Regions from separate parts of the Homo sapiens genome. Here all the other regions are linked to region 1. Evidence: fine-mapped expression QTL. A gene starts in region 1. Each other region holds a variant in brackets. All regions are shown on one strand. Distances are between the middles of the regions.

The links. PIP is the estimated chance that this variant, and not a neighbour inherited with it, causes the effect.
Region 2: its variant is fine-mapped to the expression of TMEM263 in whole blood (TOPMed, PIP 0.99).
Region 3: its variant is fine-mapped to the expression of TMEM263 in whole blood (INTERVAL, PIP above 0.99).

Annotation. Positions count from the first base shown.
Region 1 is chr12:106,954,763-106,957,526 of GRCh38, reverse strand. It overlaps TMEM263 (transmembrane protein 263), which reads right to left and starts at 1,620. Exons shown (of 4, transcript NM_152261.4): 1 at 1,462-1,620; 2 at 378-445. TMEM263-DT (TMEM263 divergent transcript) reads left to right here and starts at 2,032. Exons shown (of 1, transcript NR_185933.1): 1 at 2,032-2,764. RefSeq lists enhancers at 673-732, 1,662-1,956 and a silencer at 1,233-1,992.
Region 2 is chr12:107,116,196-107,118,959 of GRCh38, reverse strand. No RefSeq gene overlaps it. Among named protein-coding and RNA genes, the nearest start is that of CRY1, 24 kb to the right of the region's middle. The variant G/A (reference allele first, on the strand shown) is at 1,265.
Region 3 is chr12:106,933,678-106,936,441 of GRCh38, reverse strand. No RefSeq gene overlaps it. Among named protein-coding and RNA genes, the nearest start is that of TMEM263-DT, 20 kb to the left of the region's middle. The variant ACG/G (reference allele first, on the strand shown) is at 1,574.

The DNA of each region.
Region 1 (2,764 bases):
AATAGAAAAAGAGCAAATACCGAATAACTGAAACAAAGGTAAAGATTTTCCTGTAGTTAAAAAAAAAAAAATCAAACCCATGCACACACAAAGAAATCTGTATATTTGTCCAATGTAGCAACCGTTATAATTTCTAACGATGCTTTCTATAAATGGACAAATTTTTACTGAACTTGGTTTCTGGTACATCTGTTCTAACAAAGACTAAAGAAATGAAAGTGGAAAAAGCAAAACAGGATGCATATGGGTTTATCAAAGGCTACTTCTCCCTTTCTTTTTAAAAAGTTAAGCATGGGCGCGAGCGCGCACACACATACACACACACACACACACACACACACACACACACACACACACACACGGGCGCGCGCGTTTACCTGTTGGTGTTGTATCGATATTCCTGGGGAACCCCTGAGGGCACTCACACCAGCAGAAGTTTCAAAGGCTAAACAATAGCATACAGCAAATAATCACATATAGCAAATATTTTCATTTGGAATTAGCACAGTGTTCACAAGGACGCAAAAATCAAATTAAGAACCCTTCCCTTTTCTCTAGGTGTTTCTAAACCCTTCCGGGTGGCCCCTTCTCTCCCTACTGATCCCTTTAGGCACTAGCAAATCTTTTTTTTTTCTTTAGCAGTGAGTGACGTGGCAGGAGGCAGAAAATGACCCTGGAGGCGCCGTGGCTAGCACTGAGCTTGGCACCTCCTCCCTCCGCTCCACGTTGTACACCCAGCACTCCCCCCACTCCCGAAGGGCTCCAGAATTTCTATGTAAGAAGGGTTTAGGACAGGCGATCTGATTGGAAGTGGGAGCTGGGGGGTCGGTCTTGAAGCTGCGTGTGCAGAGCAGGCAGTTTTTATTTAGACTGGGAGGCAGTGACGGCACGGATGGGTGCTCCAGCCCTCCCTGTCACCCCTGGGCGCGGCCAGCACCCTCTCCATTCCCACTTTTACTTTAGGTTAGGCGTGGAGATACAGCCTTCCTACCCAGGAAGAGCTATGGGGGTGTCCACTGGGAAAAAGTCTTGTGTGCCTGAACCCAAAAGGGAGGTTTAGCAACAGGTCAGGAGTTGGCAGGGCGAGGAAGCCCGGTACCCAAGCCCCTCCGCTGCATCCCTCTCCCAGGCTGCTGATGCCCCTCACCTTCCTCCTCCGCCCCCAACCCCGAACCCCCAGATGCTAAGAAGTCAGGCGGAGGCTTTCCAGGGGTGCGCAAGCTCCAATCGCGGCGGGGCAGTCAGCGACGTATAAGGAGGAGTAGCCCCAGAAGCGAACCTCCATCCGCCCCCAACTTCGTCCCGCCCCTCCCCCTTTCCCGCTGGGGCCTCGCCAAGGCCCCGCTGGGCAGCCAGGCCGGGCACTGGGAGGTGAGGGGCAGGGGCGCCGACGGCAGAGGGCGACGGAGGAGGGCAGGAAGCCGGGACTGCGCCCCTGCCCTCGCATCCCGACTCACTCACCGCCGGGGTCGCGGCCAGCGCTAGGGCTGGGGCCGGGCGGAGTGAGCGGGCCGGCGCAGAGGAGAGCTGAGGCGGCCTGGGCGGCAGCGGCGGCCGGCACAACCCCGGGCAGTCGCGGCTCCAGAGGCGTCCTCTCAGGATGTGGAGCTGGAAGACTGTGGCGGCGGTGGTGGAGGCGGAGGCCTCTGGCTGCGGACGTGGCGCCCGACGCGACCCGCCCCCTCCGCCGCCTCCTCAGCTCCCGCCTCCTCCCGCGGCTCCAGTTCCGACGCGCACGCGCGCTCGTGCAGCCCGGGCCCCTCCCGCGCCCACCGGGCACACGCCCACCCGTTCTCGCAGGGTCCGGCCCTCCCAGCAGTCCCCAGCCGGCTGTGTCCCAATTGCGCACGCGCGACGCTCCGAGGCCCGCTCCCGCCCCTTCGCCCCCTGGACGCCTCCGTGGGAACCCCCGGCCGGCCTGCGCGCCCCTCCTCCGGGGGTCTCCCCGCCTTCTTCCCGCCACCATCCAATCAAATCGGGCGAGGGGCGCGAAGCCCGGGAGACGCGTAGGCCGCGGCCCCCAGGCCCGGTGTTTTGACGTCGGCGGTGCCCGCGTTCCGCGCCGAGTAACGGTCTTCGGAATTCAGAGCCTTCGCCTTAGGGAAGGTGGGACGGTCGCCAGTTTCTCCAGCACTTTCTTCGTCCAGGGACGTCAACCTCCCTTGCATGCTGTCCTCAGGGACTGACAGCGGGGCCTGCTCAGAAGTTCTCGTCGGGACTCTCTACAGGCCTTTGTGATTAAGTGCTAGGGGTGAGGAGAGACGTGGCTTATTTATGTGTTTTTCAGTTTGTTATGATTTTTTTTTTTTTAATTTTACTTCTCCCTGCCCTAGAATTGAGCTCCTTGAGAGTAAAAACCCGCCTGGGTCGCCATCACCCTAGGCTTGGTGCAGGGCCTGCCAGGCGCTCGAATTTGTTGAAGAGGTGGGTGTTCAGTATCGAAAGAGCCGCGGATTGTACATTAGAAAGCCTGGCTTTGCGCCGCGTCCTTGCCACTTGCTGACCAGGCCCCTCCACGTGGTCCCCGCCGGGGCAGCAGCTCTCCTCACCCGTCCAAAGGCACGGGGAGGCGCGTGGCGGCCCCGCCAGAGCTGAGCCCCCTGGGATGTGAGGCCGTCTCGCTCTGAGCTTCAGAGCAGGGTTGCAGGAGACACCTCAGAAGGTCGTTTTGAGGACGGGAGGAGATGAACTGCTCAAAGCCTGCTTAACTAGATAAATGGTATCGATTAACTTTTCTTTGACTCCCTTTCCACACCTATAAAAT
Region 2 (2,764 bases), 160 kb before region 1:
AGGGAAGTGTGGAGGCAGATGGGGCTACTCAAGAGGATTTGAGGGGCTCTGAGCATAAGAAAAGCTGCTTTAGAAGCAATCTTGAAGGAAACCATGTTCGCCTGGCTACTCCACCACGCTGCCCAAACCCTTGGCAAACAAACCCTTGGCAAACACTGTTCAGGCACCTCAGGGGTTGAAATCTGAAAGTACCCAAAGGCAAATCTTCAGTACAGTTCTTGGCAGGGTCCTGGGCACTCCCATGCAAGGTGGCAGCAATGCGGGGTGGGGAGCCTTCTCCAAGCAGCTGCATAGACAATGTCGGTAGACATATGATACCAAGCAACAGAAGAAAGGTTTGAATCACACTTTGGGTGTCTTCTGGAAATAACTGTGATCACTGATGGTGCTGGGAGGCAGGTTGAGGTGGAACTACTAATTAGCAGAGCCTATCAACCTAGCAGACATCTGGGCTGTACATACAAAGAACTTAGCATTAATATGACATTTAGCAGACTTTCCTAAAGGGTAGATCTAATCTAAGTGTCCCTGAACTCACAAGAAAGTTCTCTATCCTTGATCACCAAATCCTATTTCTGGCCTAACTCTATATTCCTTGCTAATTTGAGCAATAAATCATGTCTGCTTATTATAGCTGGCCTTTTTTTATTTTATTTTTTATTTTTCTTGGTGTTGTGGTTATAGTTGCCCTTTTCTTCCTGCCTAAATGCCTGGACTTCCTTTCAATCACTGTTTCCTGGGAATGAGGGTTGTACTAAAGTTTGGCTTCAGCCACAATATTTGGCCAAAATGTGTTTAGGTATTGGCTTTGACCGTTGGAAGGCTGAGTAACAGAATGCCAACTTTAATGTCATTTCTGGGCTCCCTGAATGTGCATTTGATCAATGAGCAAGTGAATGCATAGTTACCATCAAATTTAATCAGCACAATAATACAATAAGACATGCTATTCAGAGTCATTATTAATATCTGAACGTGTACTTTCAAACATAGGTAAGTATTTTAGATGTAACTGAGAGTAAAAAGAAATTATTTGTGTGCTTTGGACTTTGAACTCCTATCACTCAGTTGAAGTATAAATGTATATTTTTAATTTGCCAGAGTAAAATGCTGGAATAGTTCATGATGATTATGAAAGTTCTCCATGTTATGAAAAAAAATTTCAAGAAATTTCTAACATGTAAATAGAGATAGCATTAACTAGAAAACTTTAGGCAGAATATAATATCCTTTTTGAATCAAAAAGCTTTATAAAAATTTAAAT[G/A]GCATTAGGCAGAATATAGAGATTAGATTATTTCATAATTCTAATTTTTATATAATTATTTGTTTTAGCCCTCTTAACATTAAATAAAATAATCTCCAAAGCTATATTTAGCTTTTAGTAATTTAATTCTGTTTAGGCCATGAATCTTCAGTTGTGTTTTCAGAAAGTAATTAGCATGCAGCCTAATGAAGCAGAATGACTGACTGTAAACAGGAAGATAAGAGGCCACTTTCATCATTTTTCTTCAGCGAAAGACAAACCTCAAGGCAGACAAGGAATTTTGGAATTGACTTGTCATGTACTTATACAAGATGTTCAAACAAGATGAAATAGCAGCTATTACATTTTTAAAAGGCTGCTCGAACAAAACAGAGCCTTTAATTCAGCACTTTGCAGATTAAAATGCCCATATAGCAGGGCTTGCTAACCACCAGAGACTTCCTGCAGAGAAAGTGGTCCCTACACCAAAATCTACTGAATAGCCAGAGCAATGGTCCTTAAGAGAGCAAGCATTTCTTATCGATAAAGATGCACCTATCATGCTTTGTCAGGGAAGATGCGAAAATTTGCATACTACAAAGGCCACGTTGAAGAAGGAAATACAGAGAACTGTATTACCTTGGAAGCCAATTAAAGTGGGTCCATTACCACATTTCTGGACCCAAGATTTAAGAACACACTTTTCTAAAGTGGAGGTGTGAGGCAGCAAGTACATGCAAACATCAGGAATTTTAAGAAATGGAATTGATGACAATGCTTCAGAAAGTAGAGTATATCTTCTTCAGATAGTACGCAGAGCTCTTATTTGTGGAATCTCCTCCAAAAATTGTATCCTCACCATTAGACATATCTTTAAGTCCAGGAGTCAAAAGTCTTCTGTGAGTTACTACCAGGAAGAAAGAAAAGCTAAATAACTCAGTGGTAATGCTGTCATCGGCTGTACCATAAGATGGTAAGGCTAGTTGGTAAGGCTAGCTGGGTCAGCTGGGATAACTGACTCCTTTCTCCATGTGGTTTCTCATCATGCAGCAGGCTAGGCTGGGCTTGGTCACAAGGCAGTAGTCACAGGGATTCAAAAGCAATGAGAGAGCAAGCCGACAATTCCCCTAAAATTGCTCCTATCAAGATTTCCTTGGACCTTAGATTGCTTTTGATACCTGTGACCACTCTGTAGATCTCAAAACCATCATCTCCCTGTGGCTCCTAGCTCTCTTTTAAATCTTTCTTCATTGTCTCTCTGTGCAGACACTTCTTGCTTTTCTGGCCCCAGGGTTCTGCCTCCAAGCCCTTTTCTCTTTTGCCAACACTCTTCCTGAGGGATGTCAGTCATTCCAACGACTATATGCTAAGGATGCCAAATCTGTATTTCCAGCTCAAATATCTCTCTTGAGATCCTGCATTATATATTTAAAGGCTTTCTGGGCATCCCCACTCGGAAGACCCACAGATAACTCTAACATAAGTACAAAACTGAGCCTAGATTAGCTGGGTGTGGGGGCG
Region 3 (2,764 bases), 21 kb after region 1:
AAAAATCAAGTATCAAATACATATTCTATTCACAATTATAATTACTTATTAAAGCAACATTTATCTTTGTATACAAATACAATATCAGGTGAGAAAACCTAACATCTCAGATTGCTTACTGTTCATAATGCAAACAAAATATATGTCTCAAGTCAGATTTTTAGGAGATTAACTTAAAATGAATAGGCAATTACATACATTAAATTTGTCATTAAAATGTTAATTAAAATCACAATTTCAATTATTTTTCACTGAAATAATTTTTTTTTTTTGAGACAGAGTGCTGCTCTGTCACCCAGGCTGACTGCAGTGGTGCAATCTCAGCCCACTGCAACCTCCGCCTCCCGGGTTCAAGTGATTCTCATGCCTCAGCCTTTTGAGTAGCTGGGACTAGAGGTGTATGCCACCATGCCTGGCTAATTTTTATATTTTTAGTAGAGATGGGGTTTCACCATGTTTGCCAGGCTGGTCTCGAACTCCTGACCTCAGGTGATCCACCTGCCTTGGCCTTCCAAAGTGCAGGGATTACAGGTGTGAGCCACCATGCCTGGCCTCACTGAAACAATTTAAGTGTACAAAGTAATGATATGTTTTCCTCTCACTTTTTTGATAGATGAAGGCACTATCACTGCTTGTCACTGAAGAGCACATACTGATTTGTTGCCATTAAGTAAACTTGACTGTTACATTAGATAATGTATCTAAAGGCAGAGTTGGCAACTTATTCCAATGTAGGACAACCATGATTTACATGTGTATTGACCTGGATTTTTATTTTAATGTTAGCTTCCATAAATAATAGGTTTTAGAGCTGTGTGACCCACTTAGCTAAAAATAAGACAAATTAGGTAGAACTTAAAAAAAGGAAAAGCTTTACTAATCAATGCTCAAGAATTAAAATGAGGGGGAGGATGGAAGGGGGGTAAGGAATGAAAATTTACCTACTGGGTACAATGTACACTGTTTGGGTGACTGGTATACTAAAAGTCCAGATTTCACCACTATAGAGTTCATCCATGTAACCAAAAACTACCGATACCCCTAAAGCTATTGAGATTTAAAAATAAATTTTTAAATAATTAAAATGAACACTGGCTAATGAGCTGAACACCAGACAGTTTTTACTGACAGTTTTTAAATGTATACTCCAAAATATAACCTCAAGAGGACCATGTTTGTTTATCCTATAAACAGAGAAATCATTTGTTTAAAGTATGGCACATGATTGTTTTCAAAAGTATGTTTATTTAGGGAAATGGTTATTATAGAAAAATAATTTGCCAATAAAGTTGTAGATTCTAATAATCTACATCATTTTAGATTTTTAAGTATGTGGTTTCATAAATTATATCAAAGAACTATTCAATATAATTAAAATATTCACCATAACTTTCCATAAAAAGCAAACAAAAATCATATTTGCATTTTTATCTGAATGTTCTAAATATATATCCAAGTTCAAGAGGCACATAGCTACTCTGAGAGGTGCAAGAATTGTTTTCATAAATGCCTTCTAAGAATACTAAAACCAGCATTTTAATATATGCATTCATGGGTACACACACACACACAC[ACG/G]CGCACACACTATACACAGGCATACCTTTTAAGATATCGCAGGTTCAGTTCCAGATCACCACAATAAAGCAAGTATCATAATAAAGCAAATCACACATTTTTTTGTTTTCCTGTCCATATAAAAGTTATGTTTATATACCGTACTATATAGTCTGTTATGTGCAATAGCATTATGTCTAAAAAACACAATGTACATACCTCAATTTAAAAATACTGCCAAAAAATGCTAACAATCACGTGAGGCTTCAGCAAGTCACAATATTTTGCTGGTGGAGTGTCAGGCCTCCATGTTGATGGCTACTGACTGACCAGGGTGGTGGTTGGTGAAGGTTGGGTGGCTATGGCTATTTCTTTTCTTTTTCTCTTTCTTTTTTTCTTTCTTTCTTTTTTTCTTTTTTTTCCTTCTTTCCTTCCTTCCTTCCTTCTTTCTTTTTCTTTCTTTTTTTTTTTTTCAGGGTCTCTCTCTGTTGCCCAGGCTTGAGTGCAGTGGCACAGTCATGGCTCACTGAAGCCTCAACCTTTCGGGCTCAAGCGATCCTCCTACTTCAGTGTTCCTGAGTAGCTGGGACTACAGGTGTGTGCTACCATGCCCAGTATTTTTTTTTTTTTTTTTTGCAATTTCTCAAAATGAGACAATAATGAAGTTTGCCACATCAGTTGACTCTTTCACAGAAGATTTCTCTGTAGTATGCAATGCTGTTTAATAGCGGCTTACCCACAGTATAACTTTCAAAATGGGAGTCAATCCTATCAAACCCTGCTGTTACTTTATCAACTAAGTTTATGTAATATTCTAAATTTTTTGTTGTCATTTCAGTAATGTTCATAGCATCTTCACCAGAGACAGACTTCATCTCAAGAAACCACTTTCTTTGCTCATCGATAAAAAGTATCTCCTCATCTGCTCAAGTTTTATAATGAGATTGCAGCAATTTGGTCATATTTTCAGTATCCACTTTTTATTCTAGTTATCTTGCCATTTCTACCACATCTGCAGTTACTTCCCCCACTGAAGTTTTGAACTCGAAGTCATCCATGAGAGTTGGAATCAACTCCTTCCTAATACCACTTATTGTTGATATTTTCACCTCCTCCCTTGACTCACAAATATTTTTAATGGCATCTAAATGTATAGATCCTTGCCAGAGGTTTTCCATTTACTTTGATCAGATCCATTGGAGAAATCACT